Linked DNA regions of Homo sapiens. The protein of the gene in region 4 interacts with the protein of the main gene of each other region in a biochemical or structural test. Each region holds a gene or a part of one and is shown on either strand. Other genes may lie near its edges. The genes, in order: SLC15A5, RASSF6, ARHGEF16, PDLIM3, PBK, ABCC4 and MAP2K2.

Region 1 (4,420 bases), on a different chromosome or scaffold from region 4:
GATTTGTGACTCTTCAGTGGGATAAAACTGAACTGTTTAGAGGAGTCAGTGAAATAAAATACTTGGGCACCGATTTCATGGTGGATGGCTGTTGTCAATCATTGCTTCTTTTAGCATAACCATTGGCCACTGAAGTACTTCAAAGAATATTCTGGCAGCCAAATATTTGGAGAAAGAAGGGGAAAATAGAAACTTTAGAGTTCCTTTTTATCTGTAAATACATATTTTTTTTTCCAGCAGAGCTGTTAAAGACAATTTAATAAAATATTGATTTTGGTAACTAGACATTAGGATTGAAGAAGTTAAGTTTTTAATTTAAAAATTTGGGGGACTGCTTTACTCTCTCTCCCAAGCTCTCCCTACCTCTCTTACTCTTTAACCTGTTTCATTCCCTTTCTGTCCTTTCCCATTCCCTCTCCCTCCTTTCCCATTCCCTCATTCTTTTGCCAACAACCCCCGCCCACCCCCCACCTTTTTTTTTTTTTTTTTTTTTTTGAGATAGGGTCTCACTCTGTCACCCAGACTAGACTGGTGCAGGGTGTTCACAGCTCACTGTAATCTCAGCCTCCTGAGCTCAAGCGATTCTTCCGCTTCAGCCTCTCAAGTACATGTGACTACAGGTTCACCCCACCATGCCTGGGTAATTAAAAAAAAATGTTTTTTTGGTAGAGATGGGGTTACTCAGGCTTGTCTCGAACCCCTGGCCTTGAGTGATCCTCCTGCCTAGGCCTCCCAGAGCCCAGGGATTCAGGTGTGAGTCACTGTGCCTGGCCAACACCCAAATTTTAACAGTTGTCCTGACTCATGTACCTTTCAAGCTTAAAAGAGAACATGCGCCCGGCTCTGTGGCTCATGCCTGTAATCCTGGCACTTTGGAGGCCAACGTGGGCAGATTGCCTGAGCTCAGGGATTTGAGACCAGCCTGGGCAACATGGTGAAACCCCATCTCTACTAAAATGCAAAAAAATTAGCTGGCGTGGTGGTATGAACCTGTAGTCCCAGCTACTTGGGAGGCTGAGGCAGGAGAATTGCTTGAACCCGGGAGACGGAGGTTGCAGTGAGCTCAGATCGCAAAGGTAAAGAAGGAAGTGCTTGTTGTTATTAGGGTGAGAGGGTAGCATTTGTTAAACTTGGCTAGAGCCAGTGCAAATAGAATTTGGGAAGGTCTGGTGATTTTTTCATAGCTATTTACAAGCTACTACTCCTCAGCATGCAACTCAAAGGACATTTTGAGTATTAATAAGATTATTTCATGAACTGCTTTGATTTTGTTTGCTGAAATGTACCTTATAAATTATGATTTTACGATTGAAGAGTATATGTAGATTTATATTTTTTTCTCTCTCTTTTCAGAATTATGTTGAATTTCTCAATCAGGCAGATTTCTAAATGTGAGATAATTGCTATAAAATTGTCAGAAAGTTCCAAAGCAGTCTGAAACACAGTAGTGGGTTCAATCAATGATTAGTTTCATTTCTTTTCAAAGGCATCACTAGATTTTCCTTATGGCTCTGGAGTTGTTTTCAAACTTTGTTCTTCTGAATCACCTGAAGTACTTGATATGGTAGGAATATTTCTGTCCCCTCAAATTTCATATGTTGAAATCTTAACTTGGTATTAGGTGTTATACCTCCTATAACAATGGTATTAGGGAGTGGTGTATTTGGGAGGTGGGGCTTTTGCTCATAGGGGTGGAACCCTTCTGAATGGGATTAGTTCCTTTATAAAAGAGACCTCCGAGAGCTCCTTTGCCCCTTCCACTATGTGAAGACACAGTGAGAAGCCAGCAGTCTTACAGCCAGGAAGAGAACCCTCACCAGAACCCTGATCTCAGAATTCTGGCCTCCAGAGCTGTGAAAAATAAATTTCTACTATTTATAAGCCAGCCAATCTCTGCTGATTTGTTATTGCAGCCTGAATAGACTAAGACAGTACTTGTTTAAAATATGCATTTCCCACCTGTCCTCCCAGAAAATTCTGATCCAGGAGGTTCGAGGTGGGACCTGGGAAACATTTTCAACAAGGTTCTCAAGTGATAATTAAAATGAGCAACACTGCGTTGGAACAGTGGTTCTCAACTCTAACTGGGCAGCTTTAAAAAATCCTGGTCCCTGGATCCTACCTCTAACCAATGTAATCAGAATCTTTGGTGGCAGGACCCAGGCATTTGTACTTTTTAAAAAAGAATCCTCAGGTGGCTTTAATATGCACCTAGGATTGACAATCATTGTTCTCAATGTTCTTGTGAATATTAAAATAGATTCTGGAAAAATGCTGTGGGATAATACATTTTTACCTCTAGTGCTTCCCTAAGATAAAATATATTTAATTTGAGTAAGTGTTAAAATCAGAATATTTCAGATACCATGTAGAGTCAATTTGAGTACCAGATAGTCAACATTTCTGGGGTGAAATAAGTCAGTCTCTAGACTTTCTTCAAGAACTTTACCAATATTCTATTTGGGCTTTTAATCATGTATATAATTCACCCTAGTAACCCCTTAGCAACAGACTGTGATATGCAGATAGGATGCAAATTATCAGGTGAAGAAAGTAGAGAAATGCAGAAGCAAGATTTGAGGTTAATTGTGGTAGAATTTAAAATTGTGGCCAGGAACAGACTTCATTATCCTCCTTCTTTTTGCTTCCAGAAAAGAATCTGCACAGGTGTATTTACCTAGGTGATCTCCAGTATGGCGATTCTTAATTGTCCATCTCAGCTTTTGGAATATGTGGAAAGCCAGGCTCTGATCTGGATAATGACACAAGGATGTTGGCAGATTATTATGTCTCTTGATTTCAGGGAGTTTAGCTTTATTTTTGTAGTGAGGTGCATTAGTTGAGGAAGATCCAGTACCAGATGGTAATGTTGGCTGGGAGTGGTTTTCTCACCTACATTTGGCAGCTTTACTCGGAAGTGGTGCTTTCAGTGCCTGAGACTTCCAGTCTATGCTACTTAACATGATCATTGGGAAGCTTTAGGTGGTATAGAAGCAATGACACATCTCATTAAAGGTCCCATAACTATGAACATCTGACATCTGTGCTGCAAATAGGACTGAATAAAGCCTTCAAGTGGTTACAGATTCAAGGGGTATGTTGTTTTTTAAAGGCACGGCTGAAATTCGTTATATTTACCAGTCTTGTAATTTCTAGAGGCATTTTTGACTGGAAGACATAGATTACACATTAATAAACTGCTCCTTTCAAAGATGACCTCCTCCTAAATGGGTTCCCTCTTTCCCAGCATTTAGACAATGGTTTCAGCTGATGGCTTATCCATGATTTAGCAATAATCATAACAATAGCTATCATAATTTGATACCTATAATATGCTAGGATACTTTATATATAAGTGATACAATAGCTCTCCAAGATATTCCCACTTTGTGGATGAGGAACCTGGGGCTCTGAGGAATTAAGGAACTTGCCAAAGACCATAAAACTCCTAAGTGACAGAGCCAGGATTCTGCCAGCTGTCTGGTTGCCCAGTGGAGTCTCTGTCCATCTTGTCACCAGCCCCCGCACTGTGTACAGGAATGGAATCAGCATTCATTGCTATAAACTGCAGTAAGGTAAGTGAACATTCATAAAAGTTGGCCTGTAGTTTAGTATTTAAACTGGAAAAATAAAAAAAGGCAAGACAACCAGATTCAGCCTTCAAGGATCTTACCATCCAGTTCTTTTATCACATTAAAAAATAACAGCCTGATTCTTTATACACATTTCTAGATGCTTTAAATTTTTAAAATAGTGAGCTGTTTAGTGAAATCAGAAAATAATTTTTAAAAATCTAAATATGTTCATCCTAAATTTGGCCTGGTTCCTTACAGCTGCAGAAATTCATTTTCACCCCATTCCCCATCCCCCTTCCTGAAGCCCTAAAGCACACACCCAGTGGGAGTCCCCTCTGTTTCCCAAAGGAAATATTTCATTCATATAATGTCTCCTTTGTAATCAACACTGAGAAATGTCACTTTGATTAAACACAACTCTGAATGACTAAGACCACAGTACAATAAATTCTCCAGAGCTATCTTTCAGAACAACTGATTGCTCTCCAGTCTTAATCCTCCAGAGTCTTATTTAATCAAAATGATGTTGCTAATTAAGGATTAAAACCTCCGAATAGAATAAAAAAGAAGGATTTTTCTTTCTCCTTTGGGCAGGTCAAGGAGGCAGAATTTGCTGCAAGGAAGTAAAGAGTCCCTTCTACCTTTGGTAAGACTGCATTGTTCTCTGACATTAGGACTTAATCCAAAATAGGGCTGAGTGCTTTGTAATATTAATATAATTGGAGAAAGAAAAAAGGGGAGCAAGAGAAAGAAAAAGAAAGAAAGAGAAAAGAGGAACTGCCTCGGATAGCTACATATGCCTATACATACACATATAGACACTATTTACTCTAAAAATGGACAAT
Region 2 (4,420 bases), about 110 Mb from region 4:
GTCCAGAACTGAATTCCGGATCCTCAACTGCAAACCTGCTCCTCCTGTAGCTCCTGCTTCTCCTCATGATTTCAGAAAATGTTAACTCCATTTTTCTAGATCAAAATTTTTAGAATTATCCTTGGTTATTCTCTTTCTCTCACACCCATGTCTAACCCTTCTGGAAATCCTATTGTGTTGGTCTTCAAACTATATCCAGAATCTGACCATTGTTTTCTACCTCTACTGCTGCCACCTTGGTTCAAGCAACCTTCATCTCCACCCTGGACTGTCAGCTCCTTGGTAACTTCTCTGTTTCCACTCTTGTCCCCTCTCTACTCTGTTCTTAACACAGCAGCTAGACTGATATTGCCACTCATGTGCTCAATATCCTTCCACAGCTTCTCATCTTATTTAGTGGGAAAGATCAAGCCTCATAATGGCCTATCAAACCCTACATGTTCTGAGCCCATTTGGCTTCTTCTCCTGCTGTCTTTCTACTTCCATTTCCCCACACTGTTCTCCCTGACCCTTACAAATATGCATCTGCCTTAGGGCTGTGGAGTTGCCATTCCCCTTGCCTGGAATACCTGCGAAAGCTGCATGGCTTGCTTTCTCCCTTTCTGCAGGCTTTTCCTCCAGTGCTTCCCGCTCACTGAGGAAGGAACTAGGTTATATGCAATCAGAACCCTTTCCGCTCTCTATCTCTAGCACTCTTTACTCCATTTCCTCAGCATTTATCTTATGTATTGACTGCATCCCGACTTTATGATGTAACTCCATGAGAGTAAGGGTTTTGTTTGGTTCATTACTGAATGCTCAGGGTCCAAAAATACACCTGCTCACAGTGAGTAATCAGTAAGTGTTTGAGGAATAAGTCAGTGGATCCTTTATCCTTTGCATCAGGTCTTTTTCCCACTGCTTATAGTTCATCCTTATCTTTCAGCTGTGGCTTTATTTCCATATTTGATCATATTTGTTTCCTTCACTTTCCTACTGCCCAACCCTGCATCATTCACTTCTCCTTCTCTCTGTCATTTATTTGGCTTTTTTCCTTTTTCCACCCCCCATAAGATTTGGGTCATGTTTCAGTACCACTTATTTTTTCATGATTTCATCTCCTCTCAGCCCCCAGCCTCTGCTGTAGCTTGGCCAGTTTCAGTTTTCATCTCTACTCTTATAGCTTTTAAGCCCTTACTCTATTGTTCCCAAAGCAATATGAGATACTGTTTGCTGCGTACAAGAAAAGCTGTGGATGTTGGCCATATATTGCATAATCTAATGTCAAGAGGGAACCAGTAAAAATAAAGTGTCATGAGGAGCAAGGGATGGAGAGGTTAGGACAGGACATAATGTTTTTGGCCCTGGGGTTAATTCTTTAGAACTATCATTTATGAGAAGCCTTAGATCTTTCACCTAATGCTGCTCTTCAATATTATCCCAACTATTAAAACAGAAATGTTGCTTTTAATAAAGTAAAACCACTGTTAAACAAAATATTAGTGATTGTTCCATGAGAGTAAATTTGAGAGTCTTTAGGAACATACTTTTCCAACTTCTTATCTAGTATCTCTACTGATGATTCATATTATTGATCTTGTTGACCATACATCATGCTTAGAAAACTTTGACGGTATATTCCACAAATGACTGGTGAGTAGGACAATGTATAATATAAGGTGTGTGGTTACCTGGTTATGAATGTCTTCTCATTAATGAAGATCCAAGAGGGGTACTGGTGAGCCATCATAGTCATCTTTTCCTCCTTTTTGAGATGGTCTGAGGATATCCTAAACATGAGAATAATATTAATGATTTGTTCCTATAATGCATTAAAAAATTAGTTTCTGATTTAAGTTGAGTGTTTTGTTGTGTCTCTAGAGTATAAGAAGGTTTTAGAAAGTTTTTAAGTAGTATGTCATGTGTGAGCAAAAATACAGAAAAATGTATTATGTAAATGAAAAACTACAGAAACAGTAACTCCAGACACGGATGGATTGAACAATTTGGTAAGTCTGTTTTAGATATATTTCTAGCAAAATAAATATGACTCTATTGATTTATATAATTCTGTATAAGGGAGCATATTCCTTCTATTGCAATAACTCACCCAAACTGGCTGAACCTTGCCCCAATCAGCAGAAGACAACTGCAATTCTAGGCAGCTAAAATCAAGCTCTGACTTGAAGAGTTGATTAGGTATGATGTAATATTTTTCAAGTCTCCTTCAAGCTCTGGAAACTGTGGTCAGATGTGAATAATCTCCTCCTTTATATGTTCATATAAATGGCATTAGGGTGTGACCAGAGATGTAAAGTATAATATTTTCTGTTCATTCCATTTTGCAAAAATTGAATATTCAGTTATCATGGCTCCAAGTCTATAAGATTTTAGGGGATAGAGCCAGAATAAAAAAGATGGATGAGAGAGTTCAGTTTTCTTTTTTTTTTTTTTTTAAAAAAAAAAACGTTGTGTATAAGGGGGTGGATTTCCTCCTTTTCCTTTCAAATCTGGTTATTTGGGTTGGGTAAGATGAATAAAAATTAGGAAATTATATGTCCTAACTCTTCAGAGTACCAGGAAAAAAAGAAAACAGGAAAGCTATTCTTCTATTCTCATAAAATCTCTGATGCATATTTTTCTTTATAGCATGTTGTTAAACTCACTAGGTACTTTGTTACAGTTTTCAGGGTGAATGCTTGGCTGGAGTCTCATTTTAGGCTTTTATCATTCCGATCATCCCATCACCTATTTGGTCACAAACCATCTTGGTATCTTTCTTAATAAATACAGCCCAAGTCCCTTAACCTGACTCTCAAGTTTTCTTCAATTCCACTCAAACCTACCTTTCCAGGCTCCAAATTGAAACATTTCTTCAACACCAGGCCTTGTAATCTAATGAAATTTCATGTCATTGAGTCTTTTCTCACCCATTTCCCCTGGCAGCAGAGGGCCCTCCTCACTGCAGGTCCAGATATCTGGTCCCTTTTAGTCCCCAGTGGGAAATCTTAAAGTCTCCCCATGTCCTTTGAATCCACACTGTTGTCATCATTCTGCTTTCTACCTTGTATTGTCATTATTGATTTATACCTTACTTTCTTTTCTATTGCTATCTTCTTGCTCAAAGAATTGTGCTTCTCTAGTTGGAAATGGCATCCTCTGATAGCACATCATTGGCAGGTCTCATGCAGGACACCTGGAGGACTCATACCAGAGACACAGAAGCTTAGTCACCAGGCAAAGTAATTCTATACGTCAGAAGCCACATGGGCATTTTATGCTGCCTTGGGCACACAGACACAACATGCTCCATGAGCCCAGTGAATCCCAGTTACTTATTCACAGGATTTGGTCTGGGCAACTTGGTTATACAGGTTACACAGGTTCCTCCAGCTTCTCAAACTTGAGTTTTGCCCCTGGATTTTGTCATTCTAATAACCCACCAAAAGGGTTATTAATGTCCCCGACTGAAATCCCCCAGTGATGACCCTGGGGTCCAAACACTTCCTTCTTCCTCCTGGGTCCAGATTATTTATCATATATTCCTTTAATTTAGCCCTACCTCCACCTCTCCATCCATGTTCCAAGAGCCTATACCTTGCCAAAGAGTTCACTTCTCTCCTCATTTCTCGGCCTCTTAGCAACATTTGACAAGATTGATTTTCCTACCTTTTAAAACACTTTCTTCTTGATGCTTTTGAGACAAACCATGAATAACAATCACCTCACTCTATTTTCCTGCTATCTCACAGGCCTCAACACTAGTCTCCTTTGCTGATTCCTCCTTTGTATGATCACTAAATACTGGCTTGTTTGAGTGTCCATTCTCAGCCATCCTTTCTTCTCTATCTATACATTCTTCCAGGTAATCGAATCTGTCTCCATCCCATAATCTCTGTTGAGCTCCAGACGCATGTCACCACCTACCTAATCTCTACTTAGATGTGTACCAGGCATCTCGATATCTACATGGCTGAAAAAGAACCACTGACTTTCTCCCATGCTCTAAAATTTCCTCCTCCACAATTCTTTCCCATCTAGGCATCAAAACTAATATTTAGTCTCATTTTTTCCCTCTTTCATCATAAGCCAAATTCAATCCAAAAGTAAGTCCTATTCACTGTACCACTAACATATTCCAAATTCGAAAGCTTTGATTTCCACTGCTACTACCCTAAGCCAAGCCACCATCATCTTTTTCCTGGATTATTGCGTCAGCCTACTAGAGGGCCTCCCTCTGTTGTGGTCTGAATGTTTGTGTCCCCACAAAACCTAGATGTTGAAACTTAACCCCCAATGCAATAGTATTAACAGGTGAGGACTTTAGGAGGTGATTAGTTCATGATGGTGGAGACTTCATGAATGTGGTTAGTGCCCTTATAAAAGAGACCCCAGAAGCTGCCTGGACCCTTCCACCATGTCAGAGCATAGCAAAAAGACC
Region 3 (4,420 bases), on a different chromosome or scaffold from region 4:
CCCTCTGCAGGACTCAGGCCACCCTGATTCGTGCTCTGCTCCTCACTGGGCTGGGCAGAAAGGCCGCCAACAGCGCCTGGGCCAAGGGTGAGTCCCCCATTCCCCAAACCAGTGCCTCCTTCCCATGCAGGGTCGGAAACTCTGGCAGTTACCAGGGTGCGGTACTGGACTCCATCCCCGACAGAGGGAGACCACACGCCCCCAGCTCCCAGCAGGAGAGTAAGACTGCACTTCTAGGCCTTTCTATCTGTGGGGAGGCTGCCCGCTGCCTGCCCTCACCCCACGCTGGGCCTGCCCTGGCCGGGGTCCCAGGGTACGCAGCACCATGGTGTGTGGTGGGTGGTTGCAGTGCCAGCCCCTCTGAATGGCGAACAAGGAGCCCCATTGTACCACAGGTGGGGGCCCGCCCTCCCCGCTGCCCGCCACGCCCACGGCCACATGGTCCCCTCCCTTGGGCCTCAGGGTGCGGGTCACATGCCGGTCCACCTGGGGTAGGAGCAGCCATCTCCCCCAAGCATGGGGACCAATGCCGGGCCACGCTCTCCACTGAGACCCCTGCAGGGCAGGGACGGGCCCCCAATTTCAGATATGGAAAGTGAAGGAGTGTCTTGGCCCTGGCCCCAGCTCCAAGTCCCGGCCCCTCCCATCCCAGCTGTCTCCCTACGCAGATCATTCAGCCCTCTCCTGGGGCGGGGGCCCTGGGAAGGGACTCCTGGCGCCCGCAGCTCCCTGAAGGGTAGTCTGAGCAGGGCTGGCCCTCGCACGCACGACGGCAGGGCCCTGCATGGGCAGGGTGACTCTGAGGGCACAGGAGGGAGACCCCCAGGTCTGCCACCCACAGCCGAGGGGCTTCTGGGAAGGCTGCCCACCCTCCCTGGGAGGACTGGGCTGCTGCTGGGGACCAGCCGCCTGGGCTTGGGGAAGGAACAGCAGGGGGACTGTGGCTTCTCCCTGCCTCTGTGGGGCAGCCTCACCCACCCTCCGGCGCTACCTCTGGGAGCTGGCTCCAGGTGACCTGGGCGGGCCGGTAGCTCTTGACCACAATGGTGGCGTCCACCTTCTGGGTTCCCTCGGGGCTGGAGGACTCATCGAGGATGTCGTCATCAGACTCCTGGCTGGTGTTCAGGCCCCGCTCCTGGATCTCCTGGTAGAGCTGGGGGTCTAGAGAGAGAAGGAGGGTAACCTGTGGCCCTGGGGGATTGCAAAAGGCTGCGCCTCCCTGCAACCCGCCAGCTGAGTCCTCTAGGCCCACAGGCTCTCACGGCTGTGTGGGAGAGGGAGGCTTTGGGAGGGGACTGCCCCAGGCTGGGCACCAGTCCCAAGACCTCTCCTATGCCACAAGTCCCACCTGAAATGGGCTGGTCCCGGCTCAGGGTGCCTCCAAACCCTCACAGCAGCCCCCAACCAGCCTTACCCTGAGACGTGGGGCATCGCTGCTGCCTCCTGGGGACACTTCCCAGGGATTTCCGTAGAGGAGACCTGGGTACCCCCTCCTGGGCCCATGCCTGTCCACAAAGCTTCTGGGGGCTGGAAGGGGCCATTGTGTCTTGGAGCCTCAGGCCTGGAGCTGGGCACTCGAGGCCTTAGCCCTCCCCGGGCTTCATTGCCTCTAATCTCTTTACACCCCCGGGCATTTGGACCCAGGTAGCAGGCACCTCCCTATGTCAACCTCCCTGTGGGATGTTCTCATCTCCCCCGAGCAGGCTGAGTGTGCACCACCGCCACCCATGCTGGAGGCCCCAACACATGGCTCCCCTTCAGCCTCGAAGAGTCCGGGCAGAGCCCGCGGTGTGGGGCCGGTGCCCTCTGATCTGGCCTTGGTCCCCCAACACGGCCACTGTAGGCTGGGCCCAGCACACACATGGGGTGTTCAGGGCAAGACTGGGGGCTCTGTCTGTACCCTGCCCTTCAGAACACACAGAATAGAGTCCAAGGGAACTTTCTAGACCTTTCTAGACTCATCAGGGCTACATGAACAGACCAGCCACTGGGACCTCAGCCTCTGGAAGGACCCTGTCAAGCAGCTTTGGTGACCCCGAGACACCAAACTGAGGCCCACCCGAACCCCAGGGTGCCCCAGTGAGACCAGTTTCAACTGGAGCCCAGCCCGCGGTGCCTCCCGAAGCCACACTCACCGTCCTTGAAGGAACCCTTGTGCCCACGTTTCCTCCCCAGCGTCTTCTGCACAAAAGAGAGACACAGAAACCGCAGCTGTCAGCCGGGGCAGGTGTTGCCCACGGCGATTCTGCCCTGGGACCCCAGAGACCTCTCGGCTCCACATGCGAAGCTGTGCCCAATAGATGTCAGCTCCACAGGGCCTCACGGCCGCCAAGCAGAGGCCAAGAGAGGTGGGAGGAGGGCTCAGAGCAGGCAGGACACGTGACTGAGGGCTGCTTGGAGGAGGAGGAAGGGTTGAACTCATCGTGAGGGGACGCTCAGAAGAGTTTCGAGCAGGCCCGTGGCAGGGCAGGTGAGGTTGGGAGAGGGCTGTGAAGGGACAGTGGGGCAGGACACAGGCCCCTGGGGACTAGGACCTGGTGGGACAGACGAGCAAGGATTGGCCAGTGTCCAGCCCCAAGCATGGGTCTGGGGGCCCCAGCAGGAGGCCGGGATGGCAGAAGTGACGGGAGGGCTGGGCTCCTGGGAAGCCCCCACGCTCAGGTGCCCGACTCGGAGCCCACCCTCCTCGGCTGGGACACCACACTTTCCTGACGCCACAGGTATGCTGGTTCCCGGAAGGAAAGGGGCTGATTTCTCGGAACGAGTTGGGGCCTGTAAACTCCCCTTACTGGTTGGGAGTGTGTGGTGCTCCCAGCTGTACCTGGCCTGGCACCCTCAGCCCCGTGCCCCGCACCCCACCTCAAGGACTCCCCCAGCCCCCCTTCGGCCTCCAGGTCTGGCTGGAGCTGTTGCCTCCCCCACCCCGACTCCGTCCTCTCCTCCTGTCTGCCTCTGCGCTAACCCTCCTTCCTCCGGGACCCTACCCTGACCCGAGGCCATGGGGAGCCCCCTCCTCTGTGCTCCCAGCACCCCCGAGCTGCCCTCAGCCCAGCCCTCGGCATTCTCCCTGCGCTGGAGGCCCTCTGAGAACCAGGCCCATGCCCGTGGGCTCACTTTGGAACCCCAGCACCAAGCATGTGGCAGGTGCCCAGAAGTGTCTGCTGACTGCATGAAATAAACAGTGAATGAATGAACGGAGCCCCATGGGCCTGGGCCTGGTGGGTGTAGAGAGTGCTGGGGCCCTTCCAGCTGCTGGGGTGCAGGGGCCTGCGGCAGAGGTGCTGAGGCATTTCTGAGTCCTGGGCGTCTCAGGTAGGCACAAGAGAGAGCTGTGACCGAGGACAGTGGCTGGTGCTGGGGACATGGGGGACCCCACCTCAGCCACCATCGGCCTGCAGTGGACGCCCATGGGACATTCTGACAGGTGGTCTTGGCGTCTCCTGAGGCTGGCACTGCCACTCCCAGTCTGGGCAGGAGCTGGGCCTGAGGAGGCAGCTGGGACGGCAACCAGTGAAGAAGACGCTCTGGCACACACCTTCCGTGGACACTGCCCAGAGGATGCCCAGAGGGCGGCTGTGATCTTTGCTTCCACATGGGGAAGCCAAGGCTCAGGAAGGTTCAGGAACTCATCTGGGTCACACAGCACCTGCCCCCGCCCTCGTCCTTCACTGAGGCAGCCCATATGCTTGGGGCCTGTTTTCCAACACGTCTGAGCAAGGCGCCCAACAAGAAGGACGCCCCTGGGGCCAGCCCTGCATCTGCTCTGCATTCTTGAGGGTGCTCGGGCTGCCAGGGCCTCCTGATGGGCGGTTCCAGGGCAGCTCGCCTCCCCTACCCCAGCCCTGCCTGAGCCCAGACCCACCAGCTAAAGAGACCAAGCAGGGTGGCCAGAGTCGCAGTCCTGGCTGGGTGGGTGTCCAGGTACCACGCAACTCTCCCTGAACGTGGCTTCCAGCTCCAGGGCTGCCTGAAATGAAGGCCTGGCCCCCAGCCGCAGGGGATGGTGACTCCGAGGATGAGGGACACTGGGCCCAGGAGCCCCAGCTGGACGCTCTGTCCCCTGGGCCCTAGTGACACATGCAGTCAGGCTACACCCTGCCCAGCAAAGGGTCTGCCGCCACCATGCCCCAGACCTAGAGCCACCACCAGCAGGCAGGGAAGCAGGGCTCTGTGTACAGAGGGAATGTGCAGACTTCTCCTAAGCCCCAGGCCACCGCACAGCTGCCCCGCTTCAGTCCCTCCCGCCTGAGTCCCTGTCTGGAGCTGCCGGGGCAGATGGAGCCCAGGCCAGTCACTGCAGCCAGGTCACCCTGAACCCTATCATCCAGGCAGGCCGGCTCCTGTCCAGAGCTCGGAAACAGGGACTGGGCCCTTCCAGGGATCTGCCCTCCACCAAGGCTGGGAGCGGGGACACCAGAGT
Region 4 (4,420 bases):
AAAAGCACAATGAAGTGTATACACCAAAGGTTTACCAAGAAATTTAAGTGGGGCACTGAGGGGCAACATTCTATCCAAGGCTTACATCATTGTTGATGGTCAAATGTAATCAAAAGACAAAACCAATTAGAAGTCCGCTGTTCCACTTTAATTCATTTTTATTTTTCCTGGAAAAATCACAAGTAACTGAAAATGCCAGTTAAAAAAGTGTATACAACAGTTAATATAGTCCAGCTCTTGTGTTTATTCTATCTAGAAAAAACCACCCAAATAATTCTTATTTCTTAGGAATTCAATATGTAATTATTCCCTTAATGGATACATTTAAAATTTTTATTTTAAATGTTAGAGGCTTATATTAAGGAACAACATTTTGAATTAATGGAATGCTAGAGCTGCCCCAGTGAAAGCTAAGTAACTTGACAGAACTCTGCTGATGTTAAGAGGATCCAACCATGGACAGCAGTCTCCCATGTCCTTGGAATGACCTCAGACATGACAGCAGTCAAAGGCTTCACCTTTCAACTTCTTACTTGGAGACTGCTCACAGATAAAGATTCAGATAATCTTTATAATTCTGAACCATCTCCAACAGAAACAGTATGTTTGATTCATAGATATACACACATATATGTATACACATATATATTTATATATAATATGTATACATATGTGTATATAAAATCAAATCATATATATATGAAAAAATGGTGGGCATATAAGAGAAACAAACTCTATGAAGTGATCTTATATTTGATCAAGGCATGATGAAGAAATTATATTTCATCACGTTTGAAGTTTAGAATCACTTCCTCCTCATACTCACCCCTCAAATAAACAGTAAAGTCACCCTCATCATCCTTTTTTCTCCAGTGAGCAGTTTCAAGTGTTTCCCATCTCTCACTGGGAAGAGCTTGAGGAAATGGTGACTATGAAAGCTTGTTTTATATGGGCTGCCTTCCAGTTACCAAAACACTTTTTATTTGTGAAAATAAAAATGACTTTATCCCACACTCTTCTTGACTGTGTATGTAAACTCTATTATCTTCTCTGGCAAGGATGCAATCCTTTTTATGGAAATGGAGACAGCTTTCTTCTTATTTAGATAAGAACCATTTTTGTTTCTGAAAGCATCTTTCTTGTATTGTGACAGGCACAGTATACCTTTGAGTTGTTCCACTAACATTAAGCAAATATGAGGGTTATGGTTTGAGAATGTAAGCTTTGAAAAAGGACAAAGAGCTTCATTAACATACTCTTAGTCAAGAGCAACACTTCGTACTAAAAAATGGACCATTTTGTCTATTTTTGTACAGAAAAATAGAGAAAAATAGATTGTGTTCAGGATTGCATGGAAGGCATTTATTCAGGTGCTGGGAGTTGATCTAAACAACAACTAACGTGCCCTTTAAGCCTAAGATTCAAGTCTAAACTCAGAGAAACAAAACTTAGCTATTTGATGATAGCATGGAAAAATTATTATTATTATTATTTGTGAGACGGAGTCTTACTCTGTTGCCCAGGCTGGAGTGCAGTGGTGCGATCTTGGCTCACTGCAACCTCCACCTCTTGGGTTCAAGTGATTCTCCTGCCTCAGCCTCCCCAGTAGCTGGGACCACAGGCGTGTGCCACCACATCTGGCTAATTTTTTGTATTTCTAGTAGAGACAGGGTTTCACCATGTTGACCAGGCTGGTCTCAAACTCCTGACCTCAGGTGATCCACCTGCCTCGGCCTCCCAAAGTGCTGGGACTACAGGCGTGAGCCACCATGCCCGGCCACATTTTAAAAATCTAGATATTAAAATTTTATATCAACTATTCCTATAACCATATAAGAAAATGTCTCCTTAGCTTAAACCTATTCACAGGGGAAAAAAACCCCCAGAAATAAACATACTAATATTTAATATCTGTGGCTGGGCTTGGATGGTATAGTTTTTTCCCCAATAAGTAAGTGAGAAAGTGTATTTTATTCCAATGTCAAAGGTCACATAACTTACAATAAAAGTTTGACTTGGGTTGAGAAACAAAAACTCAAATTTCATATTGTTCCATGGCCTTTTGCTATTCATCTGCAATGACATCCTGAAGCATGATAATATTAATGGCATTTGTTTCTCTAACTGACACGTATTTGCTGTCCAGAAGATTGCTGTATTTGCAGAGTTGTCATTTTGATAAAAAAGAAAAAGACATCTTTTTTGCACAGCTTTGTATTACTTAGAAAAACAAAAAACCCTATAACCATAGCTTAGCTTTTCTCTCGTCTCAGTCCACAAGTGAAACTCACTGTTTGACTTTTATCAGCACGTTTTGTTCTGGTTTACGCTAAAGGATTTTTGGATAGCAGGAGATACACTGCAATTTAGTTATTTTTGTGTAGGGAATGTCTGTCCTGAAGTACCAAGTTACATAAACTGGCCGTGCAGAAATCTGGCCTAAGAGTCTCATAAGGAGTAGAAATCCTTTGGTTCATTAGTAGAACTGAATTGTTCTTATCTTGGAGCATTTCAAACACCGGCCTCTTGGAGAGGATGTCAGTAAGAATTAGTCATGACGCAAAGTCATGGAATGTTTCAAGGCTCCATCTGACTGGCTGCTATAGCCCTTAACCTAATCTCAACCTTTAAAAAAAAAACAATTTAATCTCCTTTTTCTCATTTGTAGTATTGTAAATATTCATATTTTCTAACCCCCAAATGTAGGACACAAGGGCTAATACATGCTTGACAAGAGGTCAGAGTATTTAAAATTAGGATTATGCCTTAAAATCCCATCCTTAGAATAACCATAGTCATAAATTAATACTCATAGACTTGCAATAGAAGCCTCTGCTAGAGCTACAACTTGGAAAATTACCCTTAAACTCCAATTCTGGAGAGATGTTAGCAAAACGTGGGCTCCCATCCTGGTCTAAACTCACTTTGTGCTTAGTAAATACTTGCTGAATTACTTACATGCTGGGGTGACGGATGCAACCATGATGAAGGATCACTGGGGATTTGGTACTTCGGTCAGATCTATCTAGTTGGCCTCATTTCTTGCATCTCATATTAACGAAATTGGGTTTAAAAATTAGGAGAAATTCTTGCATGGAAAAATAAGTTGCAAAGGATGCAGTGCAATATTGGATGTGTGCTGTGTAGGGAAAAGGAAATGCAGAGTCCCTTCTGGTTGGTCCAGGTAATGATAAGAGGCTGAGTGGTCAATAAGTGCATGTCTATTGACTTTAATTCTTAAAAGCACCATATAGTCTCTTTTTCTCATGTGTCACCTCCAGGTGATAAATTGATGACGGTGGGAGGAAGCAGGTCAGCCTGGGCATCTCTGCAAAAGGCTAGATACAAGTGAGAACTCTACCTCAAGAACTTTCCTTTTTTCTTCCACTATTTTCTTCTAGCAAAGAAAATGTTGACTAGAGGTGTCATTATTCACCAGCCCACCTAGTATGTCAGGGGGAGTCGCCATCAGCATTCAGATCCCTTCTCATTATATTTATTATCTGTGCCATCCATTTTCTTTTGCTCACTTACCCCAAAGAGCAAAAGTCTTACCTAGCCTAAGTATCCCACTCAACTTTCTTTTCTTTTCTTTTTTTTTTTTTTTGAGACAGGGTCTTGCTCTGTCACCCAAGCTGGAGTGCAGTGGTGCAATCACAGCTCACTGCAGCCTCGACATCCTGGGCTCAAGCACTCCTCCCACCTCAGCCTTCTGTGTAGCTGGGACTTACAGGTGTGTACCAACATGCCCTGGTTAATTTTTAAAATTTATAGAAATGGGGTCTCACCATGTTGCCCAGGCTGGTCTCAAACTCCAGGGCTCAAGCAATCTTTTTGCCTCTGCCTCCCAAAGGATTATAGGTGTGAGTCAATGCGCCTGGCCCCACTCAACTTTCAAGATTACTTTCCATGCAACAGCTGAGAGTGATGGCAGAACACCATTTTGAGAACTGGCTCCCAGGACAGGTCCTGGCAATGTTAGAAAATGCACAGCTCATTTTTAGGCCCTCCAGTTCCTTTCATCCATTTGTCAGCTATTTATTGAGCTGTGGGCTATTTATTGAGCTGGAGGGACTCAGAGGGAAGACAACAGCCTCAAGGTTCCTGCCTTCATGAACATATTCTCTGTCCTGCTCACTCCTTTTGGGGCTTATTTTCTCCTACTTTTGCTTTTAGTGGATTTTAGATTCAGACTCTACCTTCCCTTTAGTCAAAACTCTACGACAACAATCTAATAAACTCATTTCCTCTAAAGATTACATTACTCAGGATCCTTCTTCTCCAGGAGAGATTATATTTTAACTGAAAATAAAGCTTTGTTCCATTTGTCACGACCCTCGTAATAGCAATGAAGAAGGCATTCCTAGCCTCTAGGATGTCCTATCATGTAGGCAGCTAACTATCTCACCAGCAAGAAACG
Region 5 (4,420 bases), on a different chromosome or scaffold from region 4:
CAATAGAGAAGAAAGGGCAAAGAGCCAAAGACCAGCCTTCATTAGCACCCCTCTTTTCTGCTTCATTCCAGTTTCTTCTACCAGTTTCCTAAATCTTGTCACTTTACTCATGCTAAATAAACCGCTTTACACAACCTTACTAAATTTTACTTTCTATTCCCAGATGCTTTACTGCTTAAAGATCCCAATCCAGTTAGAAATATTTCCCAAAGATAACTCCAGTTAAAATATATACTAATACTACTACTAATAATAATACAGTAATTTATACTGTACATGTGGCAAGGGAGAAGACTGCAGGCTGACTGGGAGAGAGAGAAAAAAAGGGGACTTTTTACCATATACTTTTTAAAAATAGTTTTTGATTTTTGATCCATGTGGACTTACGTATTTAAAAATGTAAACACTGTATTAAAAACAAAATTTTAAAACTTAAGAGTACAACTTACCAGTCATATTTTCATCCAGTGGTAGAGAGACTCCTACATCACAGATTTTAATTGTTTCAAAATCGCCTTTAATTACAACATTTGAAGACTTTATGTCTCCATGAAGCAGTTTCTTTTCTTGGTGCAGATACTAAAATAGTAAAAAATTTAACACATATGTGCAGAAACACAAACTAATAAAAAAATGTGATAACCTCCAAATATAACAACTTGAACTCCCTTCCTAAACTCTAGGTTTACATTTGTCCAGCGTTTCAAAATTTTTTTTTTTTTTTTTAAAACGGAGTCTCACTCTGTTGCCCAGGCTGGCATGCAGTGGCACGATCTCGGCTCACTGCAACCTCCGCCTCCTGGGTTCAAGTGATTTTCCTGCCTCAGCCTCCCAAGTAGCTGGGACTACAGGCGGGCACCACCACACCTGGCTAATTTTTGTATTTTTAGTAAAGACGAGGTTTCACCATGTTGACCAGGCTGGTCTGTCTCGAACTCCTGGCTTCAAGTGATCCGCCTGCCTCAGTCTCCCAAAGTGCTGGGATTACAGGTATGAGCCACTGTGCCCAGCATTTCAAAGTATTTGAAACAAGAGAAGGGAACATCCCATGTTATCTCAGTCTGCCATACTGACCAGAAGTCTAAAAGTTTATTTAGAAATAGATACTTCTGCTAACCTTTTATACTTATAAAATAAATAATTATAAGTTAACTATTTTTTTCCAAGACAGAGTCTTGCTCTTGTTGCCCAGGCTGGAGTGCAGTGGCGCGATCTTGGCTCACTGCAACATCTGCCTTCCAAGTTCAAGCGATTCTCCTGCCTCAGCCTCCCGAGTAGCTGGGATTACAGGTGCCGCCACCATGCCCGGCTCATTTTTGTATTTTTAGTAGAGATGGGGTTTCACTATGTTGGCCAGGCTGATCTCAAATTCCTGCCCTCGTGATCTGCCTGCCTTGGCCTCCCAAAGTGCTGGGATTACAGGCGTGAGCCACCACACCCAGCCAAGTTAACTATTTTTATATATAAGTATGTATATATACCGACAGCTTATAAGTTAACTATACTTATAAATTGGTTAACTTGGTAAGTTAACTAATCCTACATACTTTATATCAGAAGATACAACTGCAGATTTCAAAAGATACCACAATTTTGAGGCTAGTCTAGTAATTTTTAGAAATAATTTTGGAATCTTCAGTGAAGCATACATAAATTGTTGAGACCATGTGGGACAATGAATGACTAGGGCCACATGTACGTATAAGGATGTTTTGGTCAATGATGGACAACATATACGACGGTGGTCCCATAAGATTATAATATCATATTTTGATTTTACCTTTTCTATGTTTTGATATGTTTAGTCACACAGTACTTACCACTGTGTTACAACTGCCTATAGTATTCAGTACAGTAACATTCTATACAGGTTTGTGGCCTAGGAGAACTGGGCTATATATACCACATAGCCCAGGTGTGTAGTTGGCTCTACCATCTAGGTGTGTGTAAGTACACTCTATGATGTCCGCACGCACAGTGATGAAACTGCCAAATGACACATTTCTCAGAACATATTAAGCTACACATGAATGTAATTTGGAAGCAGAAATGTAAGCCTCTATTTTGTTTTCCGCTAACCCCTTTTTGGAACTGACAAGTAACAATATCCATCCACATTCAAAGATGTCCTGCAAAGTGATTATTTGTTCATTTAAAATATGAACAAAAACAGAAGTCATTTAAAATATAATGACATAGTTACCTTTAACCCTCTTGCCATATTCAAAGCAACTTTTAAAATTATGGCTGCTGGAAAAGGATCTTGGCTGGCTTTATATCGTTCTTCTATTAAGTCATTTAGAGACTTTTCACCTCCATATTCCATAGCAAGACACAGACTGCCATCATTGGCTTCAGTAAAAGCACGATAACCTTAAAGAAAACATGACATTTCTTCACTAATATAGAGAAGAACAATAATATTTAAGTCCTTTATAGTAACGTGATTGAAAATATGGATCTGGACTAACGCTGACAAATATACAATGAAACAGCTACTATTTACAAGACTAATTCAGTAGATCTCATTTAAAATGCCTTCAGTGTTTGCCAGTAGTACCACAAATTAAAATACTTTTATTTTCCTTTGCTTCCCTAAATATAATAGTTTCACCAGCCCTACTTGTATTAAAAATGAAAAATGAAATCCAGGAAATTACCTAAATGGATTTAAATTATCTAAATGAAGATCATTTTATATTCTTAAAATCTTCATAGAACTAGCAACATAATTATTATATCTGTTCTCATGAAGTTTATATACTTAGGCATCAAAAAATACTATATGCAAATTTTTATTTTAGACCAATCACATTAATTTGATACCCATTAAATATCCAGCCCCATCCTCTTCATTTCTATTAGTGAAACCAGTTAAGAGAGCATATAAGCTGTTTCTGAATAAACAAAATAATATACCAGATACTGCTACCAAATTTAAACGTACCAACAATGTTTGGATGATGAAGGCTTTTCAAAATCTTAGCTTCATCCATTAGTCTCTTTTGATACACACTTCGATAATGATCATTACATATAGGATTAATCTTTTTTACAGCCCAAGGAGAATGAGACAAACCTCTTGGAGATCTAAGAAAAAAATTCATTTAAAAAGGATAGAAAACAATAAAACCACAATACTTTTTAAAATGACTTCCAAATTTTTGGGAAAAAGCTTGAAAGAAATTTGCTTTTAAAAACAGAATTTAAAATAGTTTGGACTATGAACACCTCTGCTACATTTCCATTTCAATTGGGAGGTAAGATCTAATATACTAAAACAAGTCTTACTATCTATACTGTGGAAGGGAGAGGATGAAAAGAATTTGAAGGGTAAAGATGGAATGTTACAAACTTTAAACCTGAAAATTGTAACTTTCCAATTTTTCCATTTGAGCATGTTGGACTACAACTTATTAAATATTTAATTATATGTATCAGAGATGAGTTATAGGATCCTGAAGAAAAAAACATTAGGAAATTTAAAGAAGAGATAATCAAGAACATTTTACCCATATATCATCATCCAAAGAACAGCATGCTGTTCTTATTGCTCCCCTACACTGACCAATTCACCTTATACCTTTTACCACATGCTCAAAGATATGTGCTTAAGGAGATAATGATGAACATACAAATGAGAAAATTTTAAACTTTCTATTTTCTAGGAAGATTCAGCCATTTTACAAATATTTAAGGTATAAATGTTTTAAGGCCTAAATAGGTAAAATAAAGTCAGGGAAAGGTTTACCTGAGGTGGTAGATATTTATGAGTAGAGCAAATCACAAAATACTTAAGTATATGCAGCATAACAGCACAAAACCTAGTGAAAGAGCCTCAGAAGTTTAAGACAGAAAGTTTAATGGTAAGAACACAAAACAAGAGATTGAATCAAAGATCTGTTTAGCTTTGGACTCCCTCACAGGTATAGCTCTAAGACTGCAGAACCTTTTTTGTTTAATCAAAAAGCCTATACTAAAAGGATCACAAGATTTCTTAATTCATGTACATCTATCATCCGTAAGTTGATCTAAACTATTCTTAAACCTCCAGTTTTAAATAACAGCAGCATTTGAGGATAATGATGAGCACCTGCATATCATTTTATTATGAAAAATATATTTTTCAAATTTCAAGGGTTGAAAGTTTAGCTCTTGAAAGTTTAGAATTTAGTAAACAAGTCAATCTTCACCTTTTCCATAACATATTCTAATCTATCGAATAAGAATAGATTTATGAAATCTGAATACTCAACCATGCAAAAAGCTGGTTCATTAAAAAGACTAATAGAAAAAAGGCAAATTTCTGATGAGATTACACAAGAAAAAATAAAGACAATATCACAAATAAAAATGGAAACAAAACTACAGATACAAGAGAAAAAATATGTAAGTAAATAAAATCTTTATGCAATCATTT
Region 6 (4,420 bases), on a different chromosome or scaffold from region 4:
TAGGCTCTAATTCAATTGCAAGTTCTATTAAAAACTCAGAAGTAGGATAGATAATCATGAAGTGTAGTTGATCTTCTCCATATTCCAAATCTTATTACTTACATTATGTCCCATAATCTAAAAAAGGTGGTATGTTTTGATACCAACATGTGATATTAACAAGGAATAGGAGAAATGATTTACCTTTTCCTTGTAGAAAATGCCCAAGTAGCTTTAAAGAATTTAAAAATACCGTATTAAGTTGCATGTGGAAAACCTCTTGAATAATTGAATTGCAAGAAAACACAAATTATATTTTAACATAAGATAATTAATCTAAATAAGCAACTAATCCCCCACTGTTTTACATAGACACAAGACATTTTTAAATGAATAAAATAAATCATACATTTTATTAAGACATGAATGAGGATCCATTATTCACATAGAAATTAAAAGAGCTTTCCTAACATCTCTTCATTCACAATGCTAAATACAGTGGGGGTAACTTCTATAACAAATATTTCCCTTTCAGATGACATGTCACTGTTATTTAACCTCTGAAAGCAGCTCAAATTCCTAACTCCATCAACGGGCATTATCCTTAGCCTGCCATCCTACACGAACATAATAGAACATAATAGATTTCCTTCTTCCTTTAGTTTCCACATAGTCCATCAGTTGGAAGGTAAACACCTAACAGATTTAGATTTCTTAGCAAGCGATCGATGAAATAAACACCAAATTTCACTGAGTAGGTTCTTACAAAGATAACTCACTCTATCTCTGAGGAAAGCTTGTAGGAGCATTTCCTGTGGAAATATTTAAAATTTTAGATGAAGATTTTCTTTAAACAGTATGTAATGCTACATACATTCTAAGCACTCTTGTGAAAACAGAGTGTGGCGTTAATATTAGTCTGGCAAGCCAAATGTTAAATTAATCACACAGTTGGGGACGCGATAACATTGTGATCTCAAGGTAAGAAATAGAAGGCATCCTAATTCCCAGACACTGGATTTTTCCCTGCTCAGCTTCCCTCTTAAGTAATTAGTGAAGCCCAGGAGATGAGCAGTGCTGAAGGGAGCTTTGCATACCTGGGAGGGAATAATGCTTTTATTTTGGGGGCCTTGCTGCCAGAGGATTTCATCCAAGTTCAATAAAAGCCAGGGTTTATTTAGACAGAATTGGAACCATCCGAACCACAGGGTGGAGATCCGTTTCTAATCCCCCTGCCCATCCGTATAATGATATAAGATTTAGCTAAAGCAACCTATTAGAATAGACAATAGCCACATATTTCCAGTGGCTGATTTTCTGAATGCTCAATCCTGGTTTAACTTTCAAAATCCAGTACAGAGCAAATTAAGAGTCTTCAGTCAACCTCTCTTCTAGTAGATTTTTAAAATAATTATTCTAATTAATTCACAGAGTAAATTCGACTGAGACTCCTGATCTGTTAAGACATTACTGAATGACTCCTGGAAGCCCTAGTTACTCACACAGGCTCATTGTAAGCACCTCAGCCTCTCATACAATACACCAAATGATTAAACTTTACCTGAATAAATTCCTAAGTACCAGTTAAGATCTAGCTTCTCGGTTACATTTCCTCCTCCATTTACAGTGACATTTAGCATACTTTGTTTGTTTGCCCTATGGAACATGGGGAGAAAAAAATATTAAGCTATATATGAAATTTAGATAAATACATTTTTTTAAAAATGAACCACAATTTGGGAGAAACGCTTCATGCTGGAAAATGATTCTCAGCTCACTTAGTCTTGTGTATATCTACCTTATAAAAATTCAATTTAAATCACAACTTTCAGTTCCCGAAACTGTCTGTGAACATGATGCCGCGGATCAGACATGGGTGGAGACCACCGCAGTTTACACTCCACCAGCAAGCACTCTAATTTTTCTTCGGGTAAACGAAGTGAGGATTAGAAGAGAAGGATCAACAAACACCTCCCTCTAACTCTATGGAAAAGCGAGTCTTCTTACTGATTTTGGAGTATTTCATACATCAGACCAGAAATAACTTACCAGTATGAAAGCCACCAATCTTGAAGCACATAGGCAACCTAGGAGGGGAGAAACAACAAAGACAAAAATCAAACTTGGGCATGACTTACCAACTCAAAACTCTCAATCGCTAACATGGACAACCGAAAGAAAGCCCTCAAAGCCGGGCGTGGTGGCTCATGCTTGTAAACCCCAGCACTTTGGGAGGCTGAGGCAGGCGGATCAACTTAAGGCCAGGAGTTCGAGACCAGCCTGGCCAACATAGTGAAACCCTATCTCTACTAAAAATACAAAAATTAGCCTAGCTGGGCATGGTGGCACATGTGCCTGTAGTCCCAGCTACTCCGGAGGCTGAGACAGGAGAATTGCTTAAACCCCAGAGGCAGAGGTTGAAGTGAGCCAAGATCGCGCCACTGCACTCCAACCTGGGCAACAGAGCAAAACTCCATCTCAAAAAAAAAAAAAAAAAGAAAGAAAGAAAGAAAGAAAGAATAAAAGGCTCAGAGAACTCGCATAGTTCTTCCAGCTCAGGTCTGTGCCAAGCCCAAACTCCCAGATATCAAGGGTTCAAGAAAATGCATATTCCATTTTAAAATCATTGAAAGATACCCTTTTTTCGCAGGTCTTTGTAACGGACATGGAACACCAGTAGGCAGCCCTCACTTTGTTCCCCAAAGACAGCACATTTCAATTCAGACCCCAAGTGAACTGCAAGATGCAGTCATAATAGCATAAACATAGGTACTGTAAATATCATTTTGAGGGCGCAAAACAAATGTCATTATTTACCTGAGCTGCAGTGTTTAGGAGAATAAGGAAAATGAAGACAATCCAGTGAGCACCAGCTCTGAAGTAATTCTTATAGGCCTGAAAACCAACTTTTCCTTCAGAACGGTTCTCCTCTGATAGTGTAACTGGGACATTCTCTGTCTGCAGAGGAAAAAAGGTGGTAAGAGACAAAACAGTATACAAAACTGTTCCCAAAGATGACAATGCACTCTGTTGACAAAGCTGTGGGGAAACAGGCAGAAGTCCAAAATGATCCATCTCCTGTGGAGAAGGGTGTGGAAATAGCTAGCCAAACTATACATCCACTTATTTTTTATTTATTTAATTTTTTTTTGACTCAGAATTTTGCTCATGTTTCCCAGGCTGGAGTGTAGTGGCGCGATCTTGGCTCACTGCAACCTCTGCCTCCTAGGTTCAAGCAATTATCCTGCCTCAGCCTCCTGAGTAGCAGGGATTACAGATGCCTGCTACCACGCCTGGCTAATTTTTTGTATTTTTTAGTGAAGACAGGTTTTCACCATGTTGGCCAGGCTGATCTGGAACTCCTGACCTCAGGTGATCCTCTCACCTCGGACTTCCAAAGCGCTGGGATTGCAGGCATGAGCCACCACACCCAGCTATATGCACTAATCCTTGGACCCAGCCATCCCACTTTCAAGGTTCTACTAGAGATAAGGAAATATCATTTGGACATTGTGGCGTGGCTTGCTGGAAGGATGCCATCAGGATGTTCAGCACTTACCTAGCACACCCAAATTCAAGTGTCAATACAGAAACTTGTTCCAAAATCATATACAAAAAGATATGGAACTCTCAACTGCATCACTCAAGATGGAAACATAAAAGAGCAGGGGGTCAAAACATGAGCTCAACACAGTAACTGGGGTCAAGCAGTGAGTCTCAGTAACCAGAGTTTGGAAAGGAAGGGATAGCATATGATCCTAATCTATTTGGTTCCTGAGTTTCAGAAATTGACTCCTGATAATTTGGCATGTGAGGGCCTAATCTGAATATCTGCAAGAATCCTTCAGTCTCCTGGATTTGGATAGTCAGGGTTTGTGTGGCAAGGAATATCTATGCTTTTAAGTGAGCTCTGGTACATTTCTGCCCGGAGGACTTAGAAGGCATGAGATTCACATACTCTGAAGATGTATTGAGCAGCTCTATGCTGGCCACTGGGAACACCAAGGTGAGTAAGATGCAGCTCCTATTCTTGAAAGGTAAAGAAGGAAGTTGGGCTGCTGTGTGTCAGGAACTGTTGGGTCTTTGCACATGCTACTTCTGGCCTAACTAACATAAACCATCTGACAACAGGGCAAAATACCTCCATCAGCCACCTGCAGCATCAGAACATTCCAACATACAGGAAAAGTGGCTAATTTCATGTGGCCCACAGCAGGACTTTCTCTAAGGGGGTCTTCAAATTATGCCTCCAGATGCAAAGAGAAGTCGGGGGCCACCAGACTAAGTAGGATTTCACTACAGTAAATTCAAGAATTGTAGTATTAGTGTGAGTCACACACAGCTTAGGACTTGCACCAGCATACACACCCGCTACTCACCTCCTTGACATTCCCCAGCCTACATACAAAGGATAACTCCAACCAGGGTGGTTTGCCTTGGT
Region 7 (4,420 bases), on a different chromosome or scaffold from region 4:
TCTTTCCTCAGCCTCCCAAAGTGCTGGGATTCCACTAGCAGTGAGCCTGAGCCACCACGCCCGGCCAGATCTCCCCTTCCTGTTGGAATTCTCTCTTAGGTTTTTGTCTCTAGCAGTGCCTACCAGGTTTCTTTCTTTTTTTTTTTTTTTTTTTTTTTTTTGAGACAGAGTCTTGCTCTGTCACCCAGGCTGGAGTGCAATGGCACAATCTTGGCTCATTGCAACCTCCGCCTCCCACCCGGGAGCAATTCTCCTGCCTCAGCCTTCCAAGCAGCTGGGGCTACAGGCATGTGCCACCACAGCTGGGTAATTTGGTTTTTGTTTTTGTTGTTGTTGTTGTTTTTTGAGACACAGTCTCACACTCTCACCCAGGCTGGAGTGCAGTGGCGCCATCTCCGCTCACTGCAAGCTCCGCCTCCCGGATTCACACCATTCTCCTGCCTCAGCCTCCCGAGTAGCTGGGACTACAGGCGCTCGCCACCACGCCCGGCTAATTTTTTGTGTTTTTAGTAGAGACAGGGTTTCACCATGTCAGCCAGGATGGTCTCAATCTGACCTTGTGATCCGCCCGCCTCGGCCTCCCAAAGTGCTGGGATTACAGGCGTGAGCCACCGTGCCCGGCAGCCTTGGCTAACTTTTAAAAAAATGTTTTTAGTAGAGATGGGGTCTCGCCATATTGGCTAGCCTAGTCTTAACTCCTGGGCTTCCACCTCAACCTCCCAAAGTGCTGGGATTACAGGCATGGGCCACTGCACCCGGCCCTTAGTTAATTTCTGGACCAAGGAATTGGAATCTGGGGTCTTTCAGGAAACGACTGGGGATTCAGCAACCTGCCAAATTGAGCCTTGGAGCAGCCTCTGAGATGTTAGCTGTGGAGGAGGAGGCCCCTGCTTCCTGGGGCCCATCATCCATTCCCAAAAGTGCTGAGCATTGCAGGCTCTTCAAGAGCTGCGGTCAACACCAGCTCCAGGCCTCGGGCTGGAAGCCTCTTCAGCAAGTGCCGCAGGGAGGCCCTGGGTGGGTGAGCCGGGAGGTAGAATTGCGTAACAGCTCTCTATCCATTGCTGCGGTCATTAGCCATGGAGAGGGTGACGGGGGCTGTAACGGGGCAAGCCTCCCGGGTTCCAGCTGCCATCCTCGCCCCTCTGGGCTCTTTCCTCCCTGGCTCTGCTGCAGCCGGAGCGGTTGCAGGGCACACATTACTCGGTGCAGTCGGACATCTGGAGCATGGGCCTGTCCCTGGTGGAGCTGGCCGTCGGAAGGTACCCCATCCCCCCGCCCGACGCCAAAGAGCTGGAGGCCATCTTTGGCCGGCCCGTGGTCGACGGGGAAGAAGGAGAGCCTCACAGCATCTCGCCTCGGCCGAGGCCCCCCGGGCGCCCCGTCAGCGGTACGGCCTGAATCTGCAACTTCCGGTCTGGACGCGCAGTGCCCTGCGCGGGGCCTGCTGTGCCAGGGTCAGCAGCTGCCTCCCCTCTGCCCCTGGCGCACCACCTGTCCCCCTGGATGGTGCCGACTGTGGTCAGCAGTCCTCCCATGGTCCTGGGGTTTCCGGGGACAGAGCTGGAAGCAGTGAGCACCCCAAACCTGTTCTGTCCGGGGCAGCTGCACCTGTTGTTGCCAGCTGGAGGGATCTGGGAGCGCAGCTTTGCCACCAAGCCCCTGGGCAGTTGGATTTTCCAACATTTTATCCCGAAAGCATTCAAACGCACAGAAAAGTGGAAGGAATTGGCCGCCACAGAGCCTGCATTCTGCAGGTGACACGCTCCTGTGCTGCGGGCCAAGCCTTCCAGGGAGTCCTGAAGTGGAGATTGGACTTGGCATGGCCCTCAGTGGCCTGTTGGCTCCGGCCCCAACACACACAGGAGGGGACACAGCCCGGGAGGGGGCGGGAGGGCTCAGGCCCCAGGGACAGCTGGGCTCGCAGAGGACAATCCGGCACTTAGGGCGGGCACCTCGGGAGCGGGAGCTCCCTGACGCCAGTCAGAGAGGGCCGAGCGGACACTTCCACCGCCTGAGGGAAGAGCCGGGGGCGGACCCTGCTTGGTGCAGAATCACAGGAGGGTCCTGTGATTTTTTTTAAAGTCAGACATCAGGGAGAGTTGGTGGCGTCAGACCCCAAAGGACCCTGTAGCGGACTGTGGTTGGTTTTAAAACCATGTTTCCGAACTACAAAGCACACACCCCACAACTCATTTCAGGTGAGCAGTTCAGTGGTTTTCAGTCACAGTGCTGCGCCCCATCACCTCTAATTCCAGAACCTTCTCAGCTCCCCAAGAGGAAACCCTGTCCCCATCAGCTGTCACTCTCCATCCCCTTCCTGCCTCTGGACTGGCCTGTCCTGGGCATTTCACAGAAATGGGGTCACACACTTGTGTGGCCTTCTGTGTTTTGTGTGTGGCTTCTCTCCTGGAGCGCAGTGTCCTCAAGGGTCATCCACGCCATGGTGCGTGTCAGAGCCTGGGTCCTTTTGAAAGGCTGAGTAGTATTTTATGACACGAACAGGCCACGTTTTGTGGTCCTACCCGGATGGATTGGGGCTGTGAGAAGGAGATTTTCATAGCACTGGCAAGCCCACCTCCTCCTCTCCAGCCAGACTGCTGGGATGTCTTGATCTCATCCCAGGGAGAGGCCCCCAAGTCCTTATCCTCAGGCCTAGCCTCAGCCTCTCCCAGTCCCAACTCTCAGGTGGTATACCATCCCCAGCCCAGGGCCCCAGCCCACCTGCCCATTTCAGGACGGGCAGAAGGCGAAAGTCCAGCTGCCAAGCCCAGGCCTGGCCAGCTGGTTCTCAGACAGGGGTCAGCCACCCCTAGCCAGTCTCCCGTCCTGAGTGGCACTTGGGGCCTGCCCCCATCACCGCCAGCAGCTCCATGCAAGGTCACGCGGCTGTCCTTGCCTGCGGTCAGCACCGTCCCTCCCCCTGCCCTCCAGAGAGGAGGGGTGATGACTTTGGCACGTCCGGCAAGCCTCACCGAGCCAAATGTGTGACTTCTCAAAAAATGTTCTTGTTCCTTTTGCCTTTTTTTTAATTCACTAGAGGCTCAGGCAAGGAGTAGCTGTCCCAGGGAATGGAACCCAGAGTCAGGCAGGGGAGCTTTGTCCAGTGCCTCTGCACACCCGCCTCCAATTTAGGCTGGCATGTGGAGGAGGGCGCCTGGTGGTGATCAGCCCCCTGGGAGCCCAACCCCCAGCAGAAGTGAGGTGGCCATCGGCCCATCTCACCTCCATCTCTCTCCCTGTGCAGGTCACGGGATGGATAGCCGGCCTGCCATGGCCATCTTTGAACTCCTGGACTATATTGTGAACGAGGTTTGTGCTTGATGCCTTTTGGCTTTTCTTTTCCTTTTCTTTCTTCTTTCTTTTTTTTTTTTTTTTTTTTTTTAGGCAGAGTCTCTCTCTGACCAGAGCAAGAGTCACCAAGGCTGGAGTACAGTGGTGCCTTCTCGGCTCACTGAAACCTCCACTTTCCAAGCTCATGTGATTCTCGTGCCTCAGCCTCCCGAGTAGCTGGGATTACAGGTGCGCACCACCACACCCAGCTAATTTTTTTTTTTTTTTTTGAGACATTGTCTAGCTTTGTAGTGCAGTGGCTTGATCTCAGCTCACTGCAACCTCCGCCTCCCAGGTTCAAGCAATTCTTGAACCAATTCCACGTGTGTCGCGTCTCCCATCTTCTACTGTGCTGCACAAGCCCAGCTCCTTCCCAAGGGCATTGTTTTTTTATGAAGACGAACCCAGAATTCCCACCGCAGCCTCTCACCCTGAGTCCAGAGGGAGGTGTGTGCCAGCAGCCCTGGGCTCAGGCCGAGGAGCCAGCCTGCCCCTTGAGCAGTGGCCCAGTGTCTCTGCATCAGAGCGTCCTGGCGCCCGTGGGCGTGGACTCATAAATCACCCCGCTTCCACGGAGAAAGGTACAGGAATGGCCCTTGCCTCTTGGAAGGAGGCCCAGAGAGCCTAGAAGGACCTGTAGGTCCCGGGGTGGCTCCTGCTCCGTCAGTCCCCATAACAACCCAGTGAGCCACAGTATGAGGGTTTCCACCGCCCAGATGAGTAAAACAAGGCACAAGGAGGGACGCGGCCTCCTTCCAGGCCTGCAGCTGTCAGGGAGGCACAGGACTGCACCCCAAGGTCCTGTTGGCCACGTGACCAGGCCGGGCCACCTCCCTGGGCCTTCTGTGGGTTTCTGTGTCTTTGGTGGCCCTTTGGAGCTGGGGCAGAGAAACGGGCATTTGAGCTGCCTGCAGACTGGGCTAGGCCTGGGGTTGGGTGGCGAGATGATGACGGAGCCAGGTGGGGTGGCCCTGGTGACCCAGCTCTCCCTGCACCTAGCAGCCACACCCATGCCCAGTGAGCACATCCCCCGACCTCTCCCCCGCCTCTTCCCGCCCCTGCCCCTGCGCGGGAAAGGCCTGCCCCT

What was found.
Region 1: the proteins of PDLIM3 (region 4) and SLC15A5 interact in a test that uses a peptide from one of them, tested with the Homo sapiens proteins (one large-scale study listed by IntAct).
Region 2: the proteins of PDLIM3 (region 4) and RASSF6 interact in a test that uses a peptide from one of them, tested with the Homo sapiens proteins (one large-scale study listed by IntAct).
Region 3: the proteins of PDLIM3 (region 4) and ARHGEF16 interact in a test that uses a peptide from one of them, tested with the Homo sapiens proteins (one large-scale study listed by IntAct).
Region 5: the proteins of PDLIM3 (region 4) and PBK interact in a test that uses a peptide from one of them, tested with the Homo sapiens proteins (one large-scale study listed by IntAct).
Region 6: the proteins of PDLIM3 (region 4) and ABCC4 interact in a test that uses a peptide from one of them, tested with the Homo sapiens proteins (one large-scale study listed by IntAct).
Region 7: the proteins of PDLIM3 (region 4) and MAP2K2 interact in a test that uses a peptide from one of them, tested with the Homo sapiens proteins (one large-scale study listed by IntAct).

Annotation. Positions count from the first base shown.
Region 1 is NC_000012.12:16,267,262-16,271,681, forward strand, and holds part of SLC15A5 (solute carrier family 15 member 5), read right to left. Parts: intron 4,222-4,420; exon of another isoform or gene 2,652-4,221; intron 1,565-2,651; exon of another isoform or gene 1,034-1,564; intron 1-1,033. UniProt on the Homo sapiens protein: Proton oligopeptide cotransporter.
Region 2 is NC_000004.12:73,610,061-73,614,480, forward strand, and holds part of RASSF6 (ras association domain-containing protein 6), read right to left. Parts: intron 3,184-4,420; exon of another isoform or gene 3,070-3,183; intron 1,770-3,069; coding exon of another isoform or gene 1,736-1,769; coding exon 1,671-1,735; intron 1,617-1,670; exon of another isoform or gene 1-1,616.
Region 3 is NC_000001.11:3,463,909-3,468,328, reverse strand, and holds part of ARHGEF16 (rho guanine nucleotide exchange factor 16), read right to left. Parts: intron 2,182-4,420; coding exon 2,136-2,181; intron 1,528-2,135; exon of another isoform or gene 1,415-1,527; intron 1,162-1,414; coding exon 992-1,161; exon of another isoform or gene 979-991; intron 1-978. UniProt on the Homo sapiens protein: Guanyl-nucleotide exchange factor of the RHOG GTPase stimulating the exchange of RHOG-associated GDP for GTP. May play a role in chemotactic cell migration by mediating the activation of RAC1 by EPHA2.
Region 4 is NC_000004.12:185,517,808-185,522,227, forward strand, and holds part of PDLIM3 (PDZ and LIM domain protein 3), read right to left. Parts: intron 1-4,420. UniProt on the Homo sapiens protein: May play a role in the organization of actin filament arrays within muscle cells.
Region 5 is NC_000008.11:27,820,116-27,824,535, forward strand, and holds part of PBK (lymphokine-activated killer T-cell-originated protein kinase), read right to left. Parts: intron 3,091-4,420; coding exon 2,948-3,090; intron 2,374-2,947; coding exon 2,204-2,373; intron 580-2,203; coding exon 450-579; intron 1-449. UniProt on the Homo sapiens protein: Phosphorylates MAP kinase p38. Seems to be active only in mitosis. May also play a role in the activation of lymphoid cells.
Region 6 is NC_000013.11:95,161,582-95,166,001, forward strand, and holds part of ABCC4 (ATP-binding cassette sub-family C member 4), read right to left. Parts: intron 2,938-4,420; coding exon 2,797-2,937; intron 2,067-2,796; coding exon 2,029-2,066; intron 1,636-2,028; coding exon 1,541-1,635; intron 1-1,540. UniProt on the Homo sapiens protein: ATP-dependent transporter of the ATP-binding cassette (ABC) family that actively extrudes physiological compounds and xenobiotics from cells.
Region 7 is NC_000019.10:4,096,171-4,100,590, reverse strand, and holds part of MAP2K2 (dual specificity mitogen-activated protein kinase kinase 2), read left to right. Parts: intron 1-1,176; coding exon 1,177-1,390; intron 1,391-3,247; coding exon 3,248-3,312; intron 3,313-4,420. UniProt on the Homo sapiens protein: Catalyzes the concomitant phosphorylation of a threonine and a tyrosine residue in a Thr-Glu-Tyr sequence located in MAP kinases. Activates the ERK1 and ERK2 MAP kinases.